2 separate regions of the Homo sapiens genome follow, and region 2 is linked to region 1. Evidence: fine-mapped expression QTL. A gene starts in region 1. The other region holds a variant in brackets. All regions are shown on one strand. Distances are between the middles of the regions. Region 1 holds the start of LINC01940 (long intergenic non-protein coding RNA 1940). Region 2 overlaps LINC01937 (long intergenic non-protein coding RNA 1937).

The links.
Region 2: its variant is fine-mapped to the expression of LINC01940 in fibroblasts (GTEx, PIP above 0.99).

The regions. Positions count from the first base shown.
Region 1 is chr2:238,921,522-238,929,850 of GRCh38, forward strand. It overlaps LINC01940 (long intergenic non-protein coding RNA 1940), which reads right to left and starts at 4,748. Exons shown (of 10, transcript NR_034162.2): 1 at 4,718-4,748; 2 at 4,417-4,599; 3 at 3,337-4,166; 4 at 1,552-2,869; 5 at 475-817; 6 at 89-350. RefSeq lists an enhancer at 2,770-2,939.
Region 2 is chr2:238,724,042-238,732,370 of GRCh38, forward strand. All of the region lies in intron 1 of LINC01937 (long intergenic non-protein coding RNA 1937), which reads left to right. Among named protein-coding and RNA genes, the nearest start is that of LINC01937, 8.2 kb to the left of the region's middle. RefSeq lists an enhancer at 6,423-6,922. The variant A/G (reference allele first, on the strand shown) is at 5,008.

The sequences.
Region 1 (8,329 bases):
CCCCAGACTGCCTTAGGCCTCGAACTGTGACATGAGCTCCTTCCCAGGTCTCCAGCCTGCCGGCCCACCCTGCAGAGTTTGAACTTGCCAGCGTCAGCCAGTTCCTTAAAATAGCTCTCTTCTGATGTGCACACCTTGAGTGGCTCTGCTCCTCTGGAGAACACGCACTAGTACAGTTAGTGTCTTCATGAAGATGTAAGTCCTGTATTAGAGGGGCCCCTGGAAGGGACAGGCAGGTGCTAAGCTCAAGGCACCCACAAGGGGACACGGTTGACGTCTATCCTGGGGCCTGGGAGGCACACAGGGGAGCCACAATCTGGGCTGGGACCAAGGGAAGGTGGCTTGGGGATCTGTAACCCACACAGAAAACAACCAGATAAGAATAAAAGCAAGCAATAAATGACGTGCAAGAAGAAAAAGACGAAGGCTCTTATAATAAGAAAAATACAAACACCCAATGATAAAAATATCCACCTCCTGAGACGGGTTTCAGCTCCCACCTGCCCTTGCCTGGGCCTCCGTCTTGATGATGCATGGGGGCTTACAGCACTCAGGAGGTGCCCAGACACGGGTGCAGTTGCTGCTGGCCGTGGAAAGGGTCGCCCGACCACCTCCCCGTCTCCACTTGTCTTCTTCCTCCATAAGCCATGGGGATCGGCTGGGTGTCTGGCAGAAGCCATCAGGTCTGTAATGGGCTGAAGTGTGTCCTCCTGGAATTCACACGTTGAAGTCCTGACCACCAGTGCTTTAGGCTTTATCCGCAAGAGGCTTTATCTGAAGGAGGCTTTATCTGGAGAGAGGGTCTCCACAGAGGTCACTGATTTAAATTGAGGTCATTAGAGAGGGCACTGATCCAATAGGGCCAATGTCCTCATAAAGAGGAGATGTGGTGACAGAGGCAGACACAATTAGAGGGAAGGGGAGGTGAAGGACATGGGCGGAGCCAGTGCCTGCACTCCCAGGAGAGAGGCCTGGGACAGAACCCCCCACACAGCCTGAGAAGGACCCAGCCCCGCCCACACTGTGATCTCAGGCTTCAGCCCCCACTGCCGGGACAAGATCCGTTTCTGTGGCCTGAGCCCCCGGCCCTCGGGGCCTCTTTGCAGCAGCTCCAAGACACGGACACAAAGCTGTCCCACTCCCTGGCCACGCCTGCTTTGAGAACCACATGAACAGTACAGAAAATGATACAGAGTGTGAGACCAGGGGTGCAAGGCACCGTGGGGCCTGTTTGACATCCCAAGATTGCAGACCCCTAAGGCAGAGTGACACTTCCTGTCACCTGTGCCTGGGTCAGACTTCCCTGGCTGGAGGGAGGACGGGAAGGTGCCAGCAATGAAGACAGTGGTGATGCCATGAGGCCAATGATGGCGATCATTTGATAACCAGACAGAAATGTTGTTTCCCATCCTCCCTGCTGGCACTCAGCATAGAGTAAAATCACGCACAGGTACAGAGGAGGGCAGCCCCAGACAGCCACCTCCTCCTGCCACCTGCTTCCCTCCCCACCTGCAGGCAGGAGAAGTGGGGGGCAAGGCCACACACACTCACTTTTGAGCACATCCTCTGTGGAGACTTGGAGCTAGAGAGACAAGAGGGTCCTTGGCTAATGGCAGATGACACCTTAGAGAGGGGCCGTCTTCCAGGGATGCTGTGTCCAGCCCAGGCCACTGTCTGATTGGTGATGTCCCTCTAAAAAGCATAATGTGGCTGGGCACGATGATGCACATCTGTAATCCCAACACTTTGGGAGGCCGAGGAGAGCAGGTGGCTTGAGTTCGGGAGTTTGAGACCAGCCTGGGCAACAGGGCAAAACCCCATTTCTACAAACACACACACACATACACACATTAGCCAAGTGTGGTGGTGCATGCCTGTAGTCCCAGCTACTCAGGAGGCTGAGGTGAGAGGATTGCTCAAGCCTGGGAGGTCGAGGCTGCAGTGAGCTGAGATGGTGCCATTGCACTCCAGCCTGGGTGACAGAGCAAGACCCTGTCTCAAAAATAGGCACAAATATTTTAAGTTGAGCTTCAACTTCAAAATGCTCTCTTAGGGGTAGAATGCCATCACCTCCCCACCCAACCCCCGCCACCTGCAGACTCCCAACTTCACAAGTCTTCTGGGAAGTTCTCTGCTGTTTGGGAGTTTTCAGTGGCAGATGAAATTAGCAATTTGACCCCCTCCCACTGTATCTTAACGCAGCTCTGAAGGACCTCTACCCTTTCTGAGTGACTCCCTGGGCCCGTCAGCTCATCTAAATATACTAAACTCAGGGCTTCAAAATCAAGGCTAAATTTCAGAGGGCAAAATGTCTGATTGCAGGGCCATGGCAACTCACTGATCCCCAACATGCTGTGTTTAATGCAATCTGGGGGGCGGTGGATAGAGGGGCCCCTGCTTTAATTTTGAGTCTGCTACCTCCAGGCCCAACATGTCTTCAGGTATTTTTACTCTCAAAAATGTTTCCAATTGGAATGCAGTAAATTAGGACCATCTCCTTCGGCAAAAATGAGATCGAAAGGCATTTAGGAATCACTTTCAAAATCCCAAGATCTGAGGAGGAAGAAGGAGTTGAGACTTTCAAGGTTGAAATCCCAGCCATTCTAGAAGCGTGTGCTGTGCAAAGCATGCCTCTGATGTCGCCCCTGCCCTTCCTCGAGCGAGAGCTGCACGTGTGGACACTGATTCTTCTCTGCCAGAGCAGCTCCAGGGATGCCCTGGAGCCTTCCGAGTTTGCTGGGAAGGAGGTGGAGTGTCGGCGTCCCCAGCCCTCTCTCTGAACTGGGTGCTGGATGTAGCTTGCTTCCTGTTTCATGGTCTCGGTCCTGTTCTGGGGTCCTGATCCTGTTCCGTGATCCCGGTCTTCTACCTAAAACGTTTTATGCTAAAAGCTTTCCAGGCATAGATCCGTAGAAATTGAGGCTCACAACAGTGCCCCAGGCGGACTTGGGCCAGGACACTCTTTCAGAGAGGGTTTTTGGCTGTCTAACCCATTAATAGGTAAAAAAGGAAAAAAAAGGAGAGAAGTAGGTATTTAGGAGAAGGGGTAGGGCTTAGCACCCAGCATCACCCCCACTGTTTCAGCCGCCTCCCCTTGAAGGGTTCAGTTCCAAATGGCAGTTTTACTGCAGAGAAAACAAGCTTGGGAAGGGAGTGTGGACTTGACCTCGGTCACACAGCAAGATAACAGCAGAAACCAGGAAAGATCCATGGTCATCCAAAGCCAGGTCCCTGCTCCAAGGGAAGAACCAAGGAGAACCCAGAGCCTGCCTAAGACGGGAGGCCCAGGAAATCACAGCCCTTTGCAAACCCCCAATGCCTGCTATTCAAACACACCTTCTGGCCTCTCCATCATGCCCGACCTGGGACAAGAGAATCGGCTCATCCCAGAAGGATACTTGGCATAGCCATGCACCCCTGTCCTGCCTCTGCGACAGCAGCCGCTGCAAGCATAGATGGGAACCAGTTTGGTAGCTCCTCGCTGGCTCTAGGTGCCTGCAGCGTTGCACACGGTTGGCAAAGGGTCGGAGCCAGCTGCCTTTCCCTTGCTTCCTGCCGTTTTGGCATTGGCAGCTGTCCACGTGCTTTGTCCGGGTGTTTGGGTCTTTTCCCAGCATCACTGTGGAGCCTACAGAATCCACTGGGACAGGCTGCAGGTGGGACCCAGAGAGCGAGAGGCAGACGGCCTTTGCATAGCCACCCTGGGAGAAGTAGATGGAGAACTCTGTACAGAGCCTGTGCCTGGGCTCCTGCTCTCGGGGCAGGAGGACCAGCCGACCTGTGGAGAGGGGAGTTGTCTTTGCTTCCATCTGGGCCATGACAGCCAAGGCCAGGAAGGTGTCCGCGCCTGGGACCTGAGAGCCTCGGGGTGTTTGGCCCTTGGGGTTTGCATTCCAGGGCTTACAGCGAGGAGCCAGGGAGCTGAGATTCAAACCCAGCCAGTGCTGGTGAGGAGCGGCATGGAGGGGAGTCGAGGCGAGCTCTGCATGCTGACTCCAGAGCAAAGCCTTCCCTTTGAGCGCGGCTGAAACATTTGCTGCACTCCAAGCCATGGAGCAGTTGGGGCTGAGAGAAACGGGGACAGTTTGGGCTCTGTTTTTGCTGAATGTTGTCTCTCCTTCGGTTGTCTCACAGCTGAGGTTCACAGCACGTGTCATGCTGTGTTCCTGGAAGAAGCAGAAAGCCACTGTTGGAAACGTAATTTGGGTCTCAGTTTCCTCAGCTATAAAATAGGGATTAGAAACCTCAATTCTACCTTTCTTGTGGGTCTTTGTGACAACGAGTAAGATAATCTACATGAAAACATTTTGTATGGGATCTGATGATTGATTTTGAATAAAATAATCAGATAATGTGCAACATGCTTTGACACAGGTTCTTGCGCCTCTACTTCCCAGGCCCCTCAGTGGCGCCCACCTTTGTTGTAGCCCGGCGTGCGGGGGAACCGCCCAGCAAACCTTCGCAGAGCCTCCTGGGACCCGAGTGTCAGCTGAGGCTGGGACCTGTGGAGGACGGGGCCTTCCATGTAGAAGAAAGTCTGAAGGAGGAAGGGAAATGGCACCATGCTCCTCCCAGGTACACAGAAGACGCTTTGCGGAGCTGAACGTGCAGTGAATAACATAATCAATGAATTCCACAGTCAATGAGCAAAATACTCTACACAAACCTTATTTGCACTATGCACGTAAGGCACAATCTGCCTGTCCTCACCACGTACTTCACTCAGCTTCGGGGTGACAGCTTGGAATGAACAGATGACATCACACCGCTGCCCTGGTAACACAATGCTGAGGGCTTCTTTTGTGTTTGTTTTTAGCCATTTGATTAATTGTGAGGCGTCAGGACTAGTGCGTATAGGATGAGCCTGGGCCCACCCTCCTCAGGAGCTGGGCCAGACGGCCCTCCCCGACATCTCCCAAGGACCTGACCACTGTACCCTGAACTTTTCCCCTTCACACATACCTATTCCCACCCATTCAGTAAAGACATTCAAGGAAAATGTTTTCTCTGCACATACCCCAACTCCCAAATGTTCTTTCATTTCTGTTTCAAAACAGTGAGCATGCTGTTAACAGAAGCTTAGCTAAGCCACTGCACTCCATCCTCAGGTCTCCAGTGAGGGAAAGTCAGGTTTCAGGTGCGGAAGAGAAAGGGCACACATAGTCTCCCCTGCCTCCCAGACCCTCAGGAGCCCCCACCTTCCTGTGGCCCCTTGTTTGGGGAACAGCCCAGCTAACCTTCCCAGAGCCTCCTAGGAGCCAGGTGAGGCTGAGGCGGGGACTCACAGAAGACAAGGCCCTCCACGCGGATGAAAGCCTGAACCAGGAGTGGGATGGCAGAGTGCTCCTTGCAGGTGCTCAGAAGGGGCTTTCACAGAGGAACGTCTGTTTCTCGGGCTTTCCGGGAGCGGGGTCCAGCTAAGCTCAAGGCCAAGGAACTTCACAGAACAAAACTGCCCCCATCCTGCCCTCAGGAAGGATCAAGGCCTTATGCCGGGGGCCACAGTGTGGGGCGTCTCAGCCCTGGCTGGATTTGGGGGAGGTGACAGGGGCCGTGAAAGGACAGCCACATGTCCTGTCGTTTCCCAGGCTCTGCATGGCTGGGCGTGCAGGGTGGCCAGAGGCTGCCACCTTGCGTAGGTAGGAGCCAGGGGCGGGGCACAGAGGAGGGTGAGACTGCTTGAGGTGGGAAATGGGGGAGCAGGTGATCACCAAGAGGGGACGTGAAGAGGAGGGGGAGCAGACCAGTCTGGCTGTGGCGGGGGGAGGCGATGGCGCCAGCCTCCGTGAGCCACCAGGCAGGTGAGGCCTCTAGGTGAAGTGTTCAGGAGGCATTTGGAGGTTTGGATGTGGCCTTGAATGGATGTCCTGTGGGAAGGGAGGTGCATTTGGGGAGCCGGGGCAAGGTTTCCAGGCAGGTACTCTGGAGCAAGGGCTGCAGTGGCACGGCCGCCTAGGCAGCAGGATGCTGGAGCAGAGGGAGACACAGAGTGGCCTGGGAGAATCGCTGCATGAACCCAACATGGAGGGCGGGAGCAGGTGGCCTGAGTTGAGATGCAGGCAGCACCTGGCAGGTGTGGTCAGTGGTGAAGGAGTGTGGAGCCCCAGGCTCTGTGTGGGGTGCAGGATTGGGAGCAGCTGCAGGGGAGGGGAGGAGACAGATGCAGAGCTCTGTAACCCCAAGGAGAGCAGAGGGGTCTCTGCAAAGTCCAGAGGGTACAGGGGAGATGGGGGCCATGGGGGACAGCTGGTGGCCTGGAAGCAGGAGCGTGTGGGATGACCTCTCGTGCTGGCAGAGCTGGTGGATGGGGTGCAGCAGGAGGCTAAGTTGCACAAGGTAGGAAGCCTGGCAGGAGGGCCCATCTCTGGTGGGGGGTCTACAGGCCCGCGGGGCTGGAAGCAACAGGTTTCCCAGTTGTGCTGCCAAGTTCCCACTCAGGAACGTCTGAGTAGAACGTTCTCCACACCACAGAGGGGCACCGCTAGCTGGACACATGCCTCCTCCTGGGGTCCCAAGGTGTTTAAAGCCTCACGTTTCTAAGGGAGTCCTGCAGCAAGTGCTTCATGGACAGTGCACAGAGCTGTCCAATGCAGTCTCCATGGCCCCCATCACCTGGGAAGGCCTTCAGGGGAGGTGAGAATAGCTCTGGGTTGGGGAAGAAACAAGAAGGGGGCTCAGCCAGCATGAACCCTGGGACTCTAGCTGGGACCAGCTGCCTTTCTTCAGGGAGGCCTTCTGCAGAGCTGCCAGGGCAGCATGAGGAGCCCCTGGGAATGTGGAGGGAGCAGGGCACCCAAGGGCTCTCGGTCCCTGCTGCATCACTGAGCGGCTGGATCAAACTTCTCCTGAAGGTCTCCGAACCCGTGGCCTCTCCACCGAGGTGAGTGCATGGTCCTTATTACTTACCTCCATTTGGGCTGGATCTCCTGTCTGTTTACAACACAAAAAGTTCCAACGGACAGGGTGCTCAAAACTGCCACCAAAAATAGAGATCACATCACTGTTGCTAAAAACAGTCGTGTGTGCAGAATTTCAGGAGGGAGAACAAGGAAGCCTTTCTTGATATATTGGCATCCCAACAAACTACATCCAAACAGTAGCATTTCCAATGACACCAAAGAAAACAGGAACTGCTGCCAGGCTTGCCATCCTGGGAGTCCCAGGGAACGTGGCGACCGAGGGCTCACCTTGACCCCTGCCAGGTGTGGGCGGCCTCTGCACAGCCCATTCTCACTGCTGGAAATAGAGCAAATGAAGAGTTTTCTGATTTGACAAAACACAGCACAAAAAAACAACAACAGAAACAACAGCAAATAGCCCGAGTTTTCCTCCACGTCCCCATCTGTAAGGAAGCGACTGTAGAAACCAAACAGAACCAGCAGGGCCATTGGGGAAAGTAATGGGCTGATAAACGAGCAGAAAGGACCACCCAGGTGTTAGCTGTCATGCCGGGGGGCTATGTGGGTGCTCCAGGTTTTCAATGTCCAGAGATGAGAAGTTCCAGAAAGGTACTGGAAGCCGAGCCCAGCCCCCGCTCCTCAAGCTGGAGAGTCCTGGCCTACATTCTGCACGTCAGCGTGGCTGGACTGGCAGGTGTGAGGGCGCTCATTTCTGATGGACACGCCGGAGATAAGGCCCTTGAGACCTGTGCCCATGCCCTTCTTGTTCCGTGGGTGCCATTGCCACCACAATGCCCTCAACAGAACCCTAAACAAGGTGCGCCCAATGAGCAGCGTGCGGAAGCCCTGGAGGAGGTGCTGGTCTAGAACCCGGATCCCCACACCCTCACATCAGAGCAGAGTGCTCAAGCTTCCCACAAGGGTGGGGTAGGTCTTTATTCAGCACACAGCAGAGTGTTTTTTCTCATCTGTGTTTTTTTCTTTGGAAACAGACTTTCCACACAGGATGTGACTTCTTTACTTCTTAGTCTTGCTTCTTTAAAACTTGTTACTTCTTTAGTTTTGTTCGGATTTTGAAAACACATCGTTTTGATGCCAAGATTAACAAATGTGGCTCTTTATCATGTTGGAATTGACCCAACAATTCACAGATTTAAAAAAAAATAAGACAAGGCGAATCACGTTGGAAAAAGTTGCACATTCTTTTCGTCACATGGTCCTGCTGACCCCACAGGCCCAGTTCCTCCCACTGCCCATTCTTGGGAGTTGTAAGAATGAATAAAAAACAAAACCAAAGCTCCCTGCCTTCATTTTTATGTCCTTTGTGCTGACAGTGTCTTCCTGCCACAGCCCTTCTGTGTAAACAGCCAAATCTCTGTCCCTCCTCGTTGGCTGATTGGAGCAGGGTGAATGCTGGACCAGACGGCAGC
Region 2 (8,329 bases), 200 kb before region 1:
TACAATTAAAGATGAGATTTGGGTGGCAACACAGCCAAACCATATCATTCTGATGTTGTGTTCTTTAAGATTGCTTATGTTCAACAAGGAACACCAGGACTGAGCTGTGAGTGTCCAGCCTGCTGCCAATGTCAGAGGCTTTTTTTTCTCTTTCTTAGACTCCTTCTCAGATTGGTAGCTTGAAACGTGTTTCAAAGATAGAATGCCCCTTACTTAAAGCATCAGTGGACTATCTGCGAAAATGATCTTATATTTGTCATTTTAAAAATCTCATTAATTTTTTCACCCTTATTTTGTTAAGGATCTTTGCATTCATGTTAATGAAGGAAGTTGTTCTGTACTTTTCTTGTCATGTCTGTTTTTTGTTGTTGTTGCAGGATAATATTGACCTCATAAAATGAGTTGGAAAGTGTTCCTGTTTTTCTGTGTTCTGAAATAATTTGTGTAAGGGTGGTGGTATTTGCTCCTTGAATATTTGATATGTTTCTAGTGAAACGATTAAGGCTGCTGTTTTCTTAGAGGGAAAGTCCTTAGTTATGAGTTCAAACCGTTCAAAGAGATATAGGACTATTCAGACATTTTATTTCTAATAATAATTATCTAATAAAATACTTTAGTATATAGTACATATTAGTACTAAAACATATTTAGTACTAAGCTTTCAAAAGAAACCTGTTAATGAGGTTATATATCTTGATGCAAAAACTATGGTGATACTAAAGGGAAGTACAGGGGGAAAAAGAGATATGTTTAAGAATTAACAAAGCGTAGCCCTAAATAAATACTGGATGTCAGGGCTACAAGAGAAGAATGTCTAGGCTGCCTGCCGAATTTCTGGCTTCTGTAAGCGTGCTCTTGGAGGTGTAGGCAGGAAGAGCAGCAGGCTCAAGGGACAGAGACGCGGCTGTTGCACAGACTCATGGGATCTGAGATGCCTTTCTGGCATTCAGGTGGATAAACTCCATCAGCAAGAGTTCCATGGCAGCAGCTTGGAGGAGGACGGGGCGGGAGTCAGGTTAGGCATTTCCAGCAAAAAGAGGGCAGCTGGAGCCTGCGGTGTGAATGGATTCACTCAGGGGATGGTCAGAGAGTTCACTCAGAAAGGACCAGAGAGGATCAGGAGCCAGGGGAGACTTAGAGGTATATGTTTTGGTGGATTATGTGCTTTTTAAGGTAGGTGTGGCTAAGGGGCTGGGTAGGAAGGAGATTCAGAAGAGAGGATGATCATTGATTAAATAGGTTTTCAATGAGAGTTTTAGTAAATCCAAGGTTCTAAGGGTGAGTTTCTCCTTAGACAAGAGGACAGACACCTTGTCCTCAATGAGAAGGAAGGTAGGAGGACAGAGTAGGGAAAGGCTCCCCCATGGAGCTCTTGGGCGTCTCTGCGTAGGTGAGTCTCAGCCTCAGTCGGACCCATGTCTTGGCAGAACACTCTGTGATCCTTCCTGGGATTCAGCAAGCAGGGCAGTCTCGTAAGGGTCATCTGTAGGTCATTTTCCATCCACTTCCCTGTCCTATAGGAGGCTCCCTGTCTTGTGAGGGGCTGCCACAAGACACTGTCTTATCCACTTCCCTGGTTCCAGTGAGAAGTAAAACTTTCCACATGCCCCCCTTAGGGCATAGCTCCAGCTATAAAGGTGCTTGGTTGTATTTTAGAGTGAGATATCCCAATGGAGCAACCCACTCCTCATGTCTGTCATCTGGCTTCTCCAATTTGGTGTCATCCTAGGGATGTGGAAAGCTGACATTATGATGATGTTGCTTATGCCGTTAGTGTAAGTGATAAACAGTCTAAAACCATCTCCATATTGACCAGATCTATGTGGTCTGAATGTAGGTTTCATGTTGCAGCCTAATATCCAATGCGATGGTATTAGAAAGAGCAGCCTTGGGAGGTGATTGCCTCAGGAAGGTAGAACCCTCATGAGTGGCATTAGTGCCCTTATAAAACAGACCCCAGAGAGCTAGCTGGTCCCACCCACCCAGTAAGGACACAGCAAGATGGTGCTATCTGTGAGCCAGAAAGTGGGCCCTCACTAGACACCAAATCCATCTTGACTTTGGACTTCCCAGCCCCCAGAACTGTGAGAAATCAATTTTTGTTGTTTATAAATATTCAGTCTGTGGTATTTTATTATGGTAGCCTGCATGGTCTAAGGCGTGTGGCCACTCAATTTTGTGATGAAGTCAGTGGTGCTGCTGGGGATAGTGTAAGGCTTGACAGGAAGTGTGGGCAAGAGGGTGGGCAAGACGGTGCTCATTCTGTCTGAGAAGTAGGCAAGGTGTTCTAGGGCAGTGGTGAAGACAAAGTTCAGGAGATGGTGAATGTTTTGAAAGGAAAGTTTAATATGTTTTCAAATTATTTATTTGCTTTTTTTGAGAGTGGATCTCACTTTGCAACCCATGCTGGAGAGCAGTGGCACCATCATAGCTCATTGTAACCTGAAACTCCTGGGCTCAAGCCATCCTCCTGCCTCAGCCTTCTGAGTAGCTGGAACTACTGGTGCACACCAGCACTTCTGGCTACTTTTTTCTTTTCTTTTCTTTTTTTGTAGAGATGGGAGTCTCACTACATTGCACAGGCTGGTCTCAAATTCCTGGCCTCAAGTGATCCTCCCGCCTCAGCCTCCCAAAGTGCTAGGATTACAGGCATGAGCCACTATGCCTGGCCTAGAATGGGTAGTTTAGAACAGACCAGCATCTCTGCATGTGCCTGTGTCCTGTAGGAAAGACCCAAACTCTCTGGAGGTCTCGCTACCCAAGGAAACATGAGCCTGGCCGGCTTCTGGATGTGGGGAAGCCTTTCACAGAGAGCAGGGTTCCCCATTGCTGAATTAACCTCTTGTCCTGAAAGAAGTAATGGTCTCGTTCTGGGACATCTCATATCCCTCATGGTCCCAAATTGGGCCCTGTGCAGCACAGATAGAATTGAGGAGGAACCTCTCAGTCCAGAGGGACGAAACTTCACCTAGAAATGAAGCAATATCTTTCTCAGCAGCTGCTCACTGAAAAAGTAGGGTGCCTTGGCTAATGTGAAGGGTGGGGTCCCAGAGATGAGGCCTCCAGAGGTTCTGGCGGGAGAAACACGTGGGATTTTGTGGAGTACAGTTCAAGAGCCATAGGTCTGCTGCAAACCCGCACTATGACTGTCTCATGGAAGAGCAAACGAGGACACTGAGGCTCTGAGCAGTGAAGCAATATGCCCGGAAGCAGGCAGGCAGACAGTGGCAGGACCAATGCCGACAGCCGGTTTCTGAGTCTGGAATACCAAGTTTGTTGGGGAAATGTTCCAAATAGGTGTCAGGAGGGCACAGGGCCAGGGCCAGGTGAGATGTGTGCAGAGCAAGGTGGGAATGAGGGGTCCCTGAGGATAGCACTGGGGTTGAGGTGGAAGAAAAAGGGAACCCGTGCCAAGCTCTTCTTTCCTTAACAAATGTTTACCGAGTATCTCCTCCGTGTCGGTGTGACATTAGGTGCAAAGGACAAGGCAACGGGGACTGTTTCTGTCTGTGTGGCACATCGAGTCCTGTGGAGAGAGACTCCCAGCAAGGAGTAATGCTTTTGCATATAACAAGACTTACACGTGACTATAGATTCCACTTGCACCATGCTTTTCGTGGACTCATTTGTTCAGGGATGTGGATGTAATTGACATTCCATTTTACTAAGCACATCGTGTTATTCCATTCTCATGACAACACCCGGTTTATGGATGAGATATCTGGAGGTTGCATGGTTTTCGTAACTTGCTGAGGGTGTCACAGCTGGGAAAGACAAGAACCAGGGTTCCTACCCAGCTCTGTAGGAGTCAAAAACCCAGGCCCTTGGCACCTGCACAACACCTCTGCCTCATTTCTCAGTGAGCTCTTGTTTTGTCTGCTCTCTACCCTTGTGCCCCCACACGCTGTCATCTCCTGCCCTCCTTTGGAAGCATGAGGCTGGGGGTCACAGAGGGAAGCTGGCCCCTCTGGAATGGTCCAGGTCTGTTCAGTGGATGGGAGGGGCATTGGGCTGCAGAGCTCAGCCCAGGGGTGCACATCTGGGAGCCTGTCAACCACAGGGTCCGCCTGTAGACCCAGCAGAGAGCATCGTCACAGGAGCCAGCCTTGGCCCGGGACATTCAGTTAGAACAGCTCATTTATTTGGCAAATTCCACTCCCAAGTTGGAAGTCATGTTAGGATTTGCTCATGGGTGCAGGGTATTTCTGGAACATTGAGTGCAGATGAACAATGAAATTCCTCCCTGGAGGGCACCTAGGAGAACTTGCGGGCTTATTAAAATCGCAGCAGTGGGGAGATCACTTCACTTCACAAAAGCAAACAGCAAGGTCACTTAAAAATTGTTGCCTCTTTTCTCTCATTAAAAAAAAAAAGGAATGCTTGCTTGGAGCTAGGGCTATCTTGACTTTCAGCCTGCCAGGCAAAGGGATGCTCACGTCATGGACCATTATCTGATTGTAATCTACGAATTCAGAGAAGTTTCTGGGTAAAATCATAGTGGGAAAATCGAGTTTTTGGATCTGTGTCTTCAGAACGATGCAGTTATGTGGAGGAAGGCACTCCCGGGCCTGGGCCTGCCTTGCAGCGGTGAGTTACTAAAGCTGGAGAGTTCAAACTCTCCAGCTCCGTGCAGATGTAAGTTTTCAATTAGGTTGCCTGGGTCCAAGATTAGTCAGAAACACTGCAGTAAAACTTAATCCAATCATTCTGATTCTTCTCCAAACATGATTTATCTTATGATCATCAGTACTTCGATGAAAGGGGAAACGCCAGTTCACTTTTTTTTCCCTTTGCTGTGATTCATGTGTCCATTATCCCAGAATCTGAGTCCTGTTTCAGTTTGGCAATAGCTTCCTTTGGCATTCTATTTTTGTATGATCATTAGCATTCCTTTTTTCCTAAGCTTTCATAACATTCAAGTCAGCCTTTTATATCCTTCCCCAGAAGGGCTGGAGATCTTGTAAGCTCCCGCTGTAAGCAGGGCCTGCCTAACCTTAAATGTGAAAC[A/G]TGTTTTAGTGCTGAAGTCATTCCTCAAAAAGCAACGTGAACTTGGGAGGCTGTGCCTGGCAGAATTCAAAGTGCCCCGTGGAGAGACTGCGGGGAAGGACAAAGAAATTGGGACCTGCCTGAGGCCATGAGTCCAGACACAGGCATGAGCTCCTTTCCTGTGCTGTGGAAGCCAGTGGGACAGAGGGTGTTGTGCTGAGGAAGCAAGCCAGTAGGACAGAGGGTGTCACCCTGGTCTTAGGGCCAATCAGTCAGGCACAGAGCATGGAGTTCAAGTCCTGCCTCCGTTGCTAATTAGCCAGGAAATCTTGAGCAAGTGGTCCCACCTGCAGTGCCTCGGTTTCCTCATCTCTCACATGAGTCTTCCTCACGGGTGGTTTTGAGACTCAAATGTCATAATGAGCATGAAATGCTGAATATCTGACCAGGCAGGTTGGATACATTCGATGTCCCCTTAGTGAGCCCCTACTGTGTGCTAGTCCTGGAGGTGCAGGGATGGAAGGTGTGGTTCCTCCCTCCTGGGAGCTCCCAGTGTAACTCAGCAGTTACCAGTTGGAGCTGTTCTGCCCCTAGGAGACACTGGATATCGTCTAGAGACATTTCTGGCTGTTGTGATTTGATGTCAGGGAGCTGCTGCTGGCATCTAGTAGGTAGAGACCAGGGATACCGCTAAACACGCTATAATGCACAGGACAGCCCTGCCCCCAGAGCAAAGGATTATACAGGCCCAAGTGTCAACAGTGTCGAGATTGAGAAACCCCGGTCCAGCTGAAGAACTTCATGGGTGACCAGGCCGTTGAAATTCAATATGACGAGGGTCTTAGTAACAGGGTGAACTCAGGGGGCAGAGAGACCACCCCTTGTTTACTCTGTCTCAGTCATTGGGTCAGACTTAGTATGACACCCATGAGGCTCCCAGTCCCTGCCCATTTTTCAGGAGAGCTGAGGTGGTCCAAGCCCAGTTTAGCACACAAGAGGGCTCCTTCAACGACCCCCATACCACCATCTAAGAAAAATCTGCCAAAACGTGTGCAAAGTATGACAGCTGCTCTGTGCCAGGCACCATGCTAGCACTGCTCCTGCCCCTGCCCGGTCAATAACTAGTGCATGGCCAGCCTGGAGCTCCTGCCCCTGAAGCCTGAGCCTTGGCCATGATCCCAGGCAATGTCTCCATAAAGACGCCTTAGGACCTCGCGGCCTAGGCACTTTTCTTACCCCAAGTCTTCCAGAACCACGGATCAGGAAGAGGTACCCAGAGCCCTGGAAAGCTCCTGGGTTGCTGAGTTCTGGGAAGAATTCCTTCCCTCCTCAGTAGGGACCTCAGACAGAAGGAGCCGTGGACGGCCGCTCTGTTAGCTGAGGCTTAGCACAGCCTGCCCCTCCCTACATCGCTGCTGGGACCCAGCTTGCTGCAACACAGCGGTTCTCAGAGTGGGGTCCCCCAAAGGCAGTACCAGCGTCACCCGGGGACCTGTTAACTATGCAAAATCTGAGACCCTACGACCTACTGCATCAGAAACCCTGGGGATAGGGCCCAGAAGCCTGTGCTATGAAGAGCCTTGTAGGTGAGTCTGACGCGGGCTGGAGTGTGAGAACATGCCTGTGGAAGGCAAGCCCCTGTGGGTGGTCAGGTAAGTCCTTCCACTGCTGACAGTGCTGGGCTGAATGCAGCTGGGTTCCCTGGGAGCCCTCTCAGTACAGTCTCTCCCGCCTGCCTGGGAAATTCACCTTCAACTCCACGAAGCCTCAGCTCCCCTCTGCAAAAAGCACAGAATTGCTTTGAAGTTAAACCATGTGGCAATCATGATCATAAAATTCTTAGGTTGGTGCAAAAACTGCGATTACTTTTGCACCAATCTAATAAATTCAGCCCCCTTAGTAGAAGGCTCTAAGTTGAAGAAGTTTACTATAGTTCCTCTGTTTTGGTAAAAAGCAACATTGAATCAATGCAGGCAGCAAGCAGGAAACATTTAAAATGGACGCCAGTGAGTCAAGACATGGAGCGCTGAAAATGCTGGGACTGCATTGGAAATGTGCATAAAACTTAAAACAACAGAGATGAGAAAGATACATTCTATCTCCATCTGGCAAGTTAAAAAAAAAAAAAAAACCAGAATGCTGGTCGTGCTGTATCTTGAGTTTGGTGATAGTTACAGGAGTTTATTCATTTGTAAAAATTCATTGAGATGAATGAATGCATTTAAGATTACATATAAAGAATATAAATTGTCCAGGCACTGTGGCTCGTGCCTGTAATCCCAGCACTTTGAGAGGTTGAGGCTTGAGGATGACTTGAGCTCAGGAGTTCAAGAATAGCCTGGGCAACATAGCAAAGCCCTGTCTCTGCAAAAAATAAAAAATAAAAAAAAATTTACTGGGCATGGTGGTGCATGCCTGTAATCCCAGCTACTCAAGAGGCTGAGATGGGAGAATCCCTTGAGCACAGGAGGTTGAGGCTGCAGTGAGCCTTGATTGCACCACTGTGCTCCACCCTGGGCAACAGAGCAAGACTCTTTCTCACAAAGAATAATATAAATTATGCCTATATGTCTATAAACATTGAAAAAAATTCTGTATTTTACAGTTTGTATGTTACACTTTAAAGTATTTCAGGTTGACAAAAAAAAAACAGATAAATGAACTTTTGGTGAAAGAGCAAGGAGACTGAGACTTTCAGGAAGTGGTACAGGCACAATGCATGCTGGGAACGGAATGGGCAGGTGGAGAATGGCCTTAGGAAGCACTGTGCAGTCTGCACCACTAGTGATGAGCTTGTGAGTGTATGGTCAAGGCAGAACTAGGTATGGACTTGTAAAATCTATTGACAATTACAACTTAGCCCTGAATTTGAGAAAGCTGGAAGGAAGTCGTCTGGAGGACTTCTTGGGTGAAAAGGCGTGCAGTAACCAGACTTCCAGACTTTTATTTACAACTGGGCATTAAAGCCAACGCTTAGTCTCAGAAGGTTGTGGTGTGAATTAGAAGCCACCTGGGAGTTGAGCAAGACTGACTCAAACTCCAGTTCCAAGCCCTGGGACAATCTAATGCTGTTTCGGAAAGTCTATAACTTCCTCATAAAGTTTCTGGGTTTTTTCCCCTTTTTTTAAAACTTCTTACAAAATGAATACACATTTTTTTTAGAACAGTTTTAGATTTACAGAAATACTGACCACAGCCTTTTCAGACTGGCTTCTTTCACTTTGCAATATGCAATTAAGGTCCCTCCCTGTCTTCACAGTTCTGTGGTTTTCTTCTTGTTGCTCAATAATATTCCATTGTATTGATGTACCCGTTTGCTTGTACAACCACCCATTAAAGAACA